Linked DNA regions of Homo sapiens: region 2 is linked to region 1. A link means that fine-mapping ties the variant in region 1 to the expression of a gene that starts in the linked region. Tissue or cell type: whole blood. Region 1 holds a variant in brackets; the other region holds the start of a gene. All regions are shown on one strand. Distances are from middle to middle.

Region 1 (2,760 bases):
CCTAATCTTAAGTACCCAGGGACACAAACACTGCGGAAGGCCGCAGGGTCCTCTGCCTAGGAAAACCAGACCTTCCCTCCACTATTGTCCTATGACCCTGCCAAATCCCCCTCTGCGAGAAACACCCAAGAATGATCAATAAAAAAAAAAAAAAAAAAAGAGTCATCACCAATCCCCAATCTCAAGTAATCAGGGACACAAACACTGCGGAAGGCCGCAGGGTCCTCTGCCTAGGAAAACCAGAGACCTTTGTTCACTTGTTTATCTGCTGACCTTCCCTCCACTATTGTCCCATGACCCTGCCAAATCCCCCTCTGTGAGAAACACCCAAGAATTATCAATAAAAAAAAAAAAAAAAAAAAAAAAAGAAAACCACAAAATCATTTCAACTGATGCAGAGAAAGCATTTGAGAAAATTCAACACCCTTTCTTGATAAAAACAAACAAATAAAACACTCAACAAACAAGGAATGGAAGGAGACTACCTCAACATAATAAAAGCCATATAAAAGAAATGCAAGCAAACTTCATATTCAATGGTGATGACCTGAAAGCTTTCCCTCTAAGATCAGGAATAAAGCAAGGATGCCTGTTTTCACCACTTCTATTCAACATAATAATGGAAGTTCTGTCAAGAGCAATAAGACAAGAGAAGAAATAAAAGGCATCGAAATTAGAAAGAAAGAAGTTAAATTATGTCTGTTCACGGATGATATGATCTCATATATAGAAAACCTGAATGTTCCACAAAAATACTATCAGAACTAATAAATAAATAAATTCACCAAAGTGGCAGGATACAAAGTCAACATGCAAAAATCAGTTGCATTTCTATTCACTAATGAACAATCCAAAAAGGAAATTAAGAAAACAATTCCATTTCCAATAGCATCAAAAAGAATAAAACACTTAGGAATAAACTTAACCAAGGAGATGAAAGACTTGTACAATAAAAAAAACCATAAAATACAGCTGAAAGGAATTAAAGAGGACACATACAAATGTTAAGACACCCCATAGTCATTGATTGGAAGATTTAATATTAAGATGTCAATATTACCAAAAGTGATTTACAGGTTCAATGCAATCCCTATCAAAATCCCAGTGACTTTTTTTCAGAAATAGAAAGATCCATCCAAAAATTCATATGGAATCTCAAGAGATCCTGAATAGCCAAAACAATCCTGAAAAGAAGAACAAAGCTGGAGGACTCACTCTTCCTGATTTCAAAACTTAAAATTACAGTAATCAAAACAGTGCAGCATTGACATAAAGACAGACAAATGGACCACAGAAATGAGCAGAGGGCCCAGAACAAACCCTCACATATAAAGTCATATGATTGTTGGGGGCACCAAGACCATTCAGTTGGGAAAGGACAGTTTTTTCAACAAATGCTGCTAGGAAAGCTGGCTATCCACATGCAAAAGAATGAGGTTGGACCCTTACCTACTACCATATACAAAAGTTAATTAACAATGAATCCATGACCTAAATGTAAGATCTAAAACAATAAAAC[G/A]TTTAATGTTTTTTACTATAGTTTCCTATAGTGAGAAAACGCAGGCAAAAGTTTCATGACACTGAATTGGGCAACAATGTTTTAAGTATGACACCAAAGGCACTGGCAACAACAAAAAAAGATAGATTGGACAATGAAAATTTTAAAACTTTATGCATGAAAAGATACTATCAACAGAGTAAAAAGGCAGCCCACAAAATGCAGAAAATACTTTCAAATCATGTATATTTTATTATATACATTTATTATATACATGTATATTATATCCAGAATATATAGAGAATTCCTAAAACCCAACAAAAAACCTCAAACAACCCAATTCATAAATGGGCAAAGGACTTGAACCGACATTTCTCCAAATAAGAGATACAAATGGCCAATAAGCACATGAAAGAACCAATGTGATACGGAATGGACAAAAACTGGAAGCATTCCCTTTGAAAACGGGCACAAGACAGGGATGCCCTCTCTCACCACTCCTATTCAACATAGTGTTGGAAGTTCCGGCCAGGGCAATCAGGCAGGAGAAGGAAATCAAGGGCATTCAGTTAGGAAAAGAGGAAGTCAAATTGTCCCTGTTTGCAGATGACATGATTGTATATCTAGAAAACCCCATGGTCTCAGCCCAAAACCTCCTTAAGCTGATAAGCAACTTCAGCAAAGTCTCAGGGTACAAAATCCATGTGCAAAAATCATAAGCATTCCTATACACCAATAACAGACAAACAGAGCTAAATCATGAATGAACTCCCATTCACAATTCCTTCAAAGAGAATAAAATACCTAGGGATCCAACTTAAAGGGATGTGAAGGACCTCTTCAAGGAGAAGTACAAACCACTGCTCAATAAAATAAAAGAACACACAAACAAATGGAAGAACATTCCATGCTCATGGGTAGGAAGAATCAGTATCATGAAAATGGCCATACTGCCCAAGGTAATTTATAGATTCAATGCCATCCCCATCAAGCTACCAATGACTTTCTTCACAGAATTGGAAAAAACTACTTGAAAGTTCATATGGAACCAAAAAAGAGCCCGTGTTGCCAAGTCAATCCTAAGCCAAAAGAACAAAGCTGGAGGCATCATACTACCTGACTTCAAACTATACTACAAGGCTACAGTAACCAAAACAGCATGGTACTGGTACCAAAACAGAGATATAGACCAATGGAACAGAACAGAGCCCTCAGAAATAATGCCGCATATCTACAACTATCTGATCTTTGACAAACCTGAG
Region 2 (2,629 bases), 150 kb before region 1:
ATCTTCTTCTTCCTTCCTAAAAATCCCAACACCTCCAACAAAGGTCTACAGTTAGATTTTTAGGGGTTTCCTGGTAGAGCACAAATAATCCCAAGGAAGCTGCAGTAACACCTCCTGGCCACCAGAGGACAGGGAGCAGTGGGAGAGATTTGCTTCCCCTAGCAAAGTCTTCAAGAGGCCAGAGGCACAGGCTCAAAGTTGCTTCTCCATCTGTGGCCTTCAGGCTTTACCTACTACTGCCAGAGGTGCTAGGGTGCCTCCCATCTTCAAATGGGCTTTTTTTTTCCCTCCTATAAAAGATGGGCCAGAAGTTCCCAGGGCCATACCCCGCAACACTAACCTTCAATGATTACCAATCATAAGGAATGCCTTTAGTTGCAGGACTTAAAGGCAGAAAAGTAGTAACAGGGGTGTATTATCTTTCGAACCCACCCAAACCTGCTTATCAGTTCTTTTGCTAGTGGAAAAACGTGCTTTAGGCAGGGTGCACATGGATATCCCACAGCAAACAGTGCCTTTAGGGTCTAGTGTCCCAATCCGGCACATTGTAAATGGAATATTTGAAGAGTTAGATTATTCCTACACATAAATTCTGGCTCATGGAGCAGTCCACTCGCAGGGTGCTTTTCCGTCATTAATCACATCTTTGTTATGTGATATCCACGTGAGTACTTCTCAGTAGAAGCAGCTTCATGCTCAAATGCTCAAAGAACATTGGAATAAAGCTCCGATTGTCCTATTCAGTGATTCCAAGTCCTGGTTTGTCACCACCTCAGGTCTCTCGTTTTCCAAAGTGCATAATGTCATCTCAAAACAGACATTTTAATGAATTCAAATAATAAAATGCACGAGGTATGTGGAGTTAAATCAACAAGGGTTTTGTACCTCTCAAGAGGCGGTTAACCCCTGGTCTTATTTAAAGATGTTTCTGCGCTGCCTCCTGTAGAAAACATTTTTAAAGAAAATGTAGGCTGCTTATCCTTGTATTTGTAAATATAAGCAAAGTAAAGTAATGTAGGAACATTTATGTGGGGGCTTTCAACCATAAACATATAGATAGCTGAATGCCTGACAACAGTAGTGTGATTTTTCTTGAAGTACCTGTAACTTCTCTCCTGAGAGATGGCAGAGCCTTGCCTTTTGCATTCGCCAGACTTTTTACAGAGCGAGTGTAATTCTCTCAAATCAGTGTTTGCGTTTTTTGACGTTGGTGAGGCAGCTGGAAACAGCTCAAGGAGGAGGGAAAGGTTCTGCGTCTGGGTGAGGGAGAAAACCCTCCGATACCTGTTGGGGCGCAGCACTGGAGGCGGACACCCCGGCCCGGGGGTCGGGGCCGCGAGCCCGGGGGTAGGGGGCGGGCGCGCGGGCGCGGGAGGAGGAGGAGGAGGAGGGAGAGGTGGGGGAGGAGGCCGCGGGGCCGCCTCCTCCGGCAGCTCCGGCTCCTCCCAGCGGCGCCCGCGGAACCTGCCTCAGAGTCGCCGGACTCTGGAAGGGAACATGACCTGACCCCTCCCCGAGCGGCCGGAACGAGGCGCGGAGCCGCGCTCCGGGCTCGGGCGGCCGCGGGATGGGCGAGCGCGCGGCCCCGCCCGGCGCCCACCGCCCTGCCCTCGCCTGTCTCCTCCTTTCCCCGGGGCTCCGCTGAGTTCATTCACTGGGATTGGTTTCAAGTGACGCCATCTCTTTATTTTTAAACCAATGACCTCATCCGCGCTTGAAGTTTCCTGACCAGCGACTCTTTCTCTTTCCCCCAACCCCCCACCCCACCCCCCCGCCTTTCCCCCTCTTTCTATGTATCAGTGTTTGGGGGGCTTTAATCAGTTTTTAAACGATTATTACCACCTCTCTCTCCCCCCCAACCCCCACTTTCACAACGCGGCCCCCCACCTTTACCTCCCTAAGTTCTTCATCTCTTTCGACATTTTTTTTGAAGGCTGATGGGGGGGAGGGTGGAAGAGAAAGAGTGAAGAAAAGTTGCGAGCGTCTCCTCTCTTCCTAAGCCTCCCGCCCCAACCCACCCCTCAGAGAAGGAGAAGATAATATACTGAAAAGAAGAGGAGGAGGAGAGCGACGGGACGGGACGCGAGCGGGAGCGCAGCCGCCCTCTCGGCTCCGCGGCGGCGCCTCGCAAGTCCGGGAGGCGAGGGGGGCCCGAGGGGAGACGCCGTGACAACTTTCGTTTCCCTCTGAGGGAATTGGGAGGTCGGCGGCCCCAAAAGTAAGTGGCCTTGGCGGGCCGCGCGGGGTGTGCGGGCGGGAGGGTGCGGGGCCCGGGGCGCCCTCCCGCCCGGCCGCATGGACGCTCCGCAGCGCGCCCCGACTCCCGGTGCCGGGCGCCGCGCTCCAGCCCCGCCGTCTCTGCCTTCCCGGGCGTACCGGCCACCCTTTCGGGAGGCGGCGTGGGGGCGACCGCGGCCGGGGGCCGCAGGAGCGTTTGAAGCGGGGGTGTAGGCCTGGCCGGAGGCTGGCCGGAGCGGGAAGGGGGCGTGCGGCCGGGCGCGGGGTCGCAGTGGGTGCGCTCCCGGCCGCTGCGCGGCGCTTGGACCGGGCCCCGCCGAGAGGAGCGGCCGCCGCGGGACGCGGCACCTTTGCGGGCGAAGCTGCTCACTTCCAGGCGCGACTGTTACAC

Evidence for each region. PIP is the estimated chance that this variant, and not a neighbour inherited with it, causes the effect.
Region 2: DUSP16 starts here. The variant in region 1 is fine-mapped to the expression of DUSP16 in whole blood (TOPMed, PIP above 0.99).

The regions. Positions count from the first base shown.
Region 1 is chr12:12,410,508-12,413,267 of GRCh38, reverse strand. The region is part of intron 2 of BORCS5 (BLOC-1 related complex subunit 5); the gene reads right to left. Among named protein-coding and RNA genes, the nearest start is that of BORCS5, 55 kb to the right of the region's middle. The variant G/A (reference allele first, on the strand shown) is at 1,520.
Region 2 is chr12:12,561,706-12,564,334 of GRCh38, reverse strand. It overlaps DUSP16 (dual specificity phosphatase 16), which reads left to right and starts at 1,472. Exons shown (of 7, transcript NM_030640.3): 1 at 1,472-2,218. RefSeq lists silencers at 1,163-1,672, 2,123-2,202, 2,233-2,352, 2,373-2,572.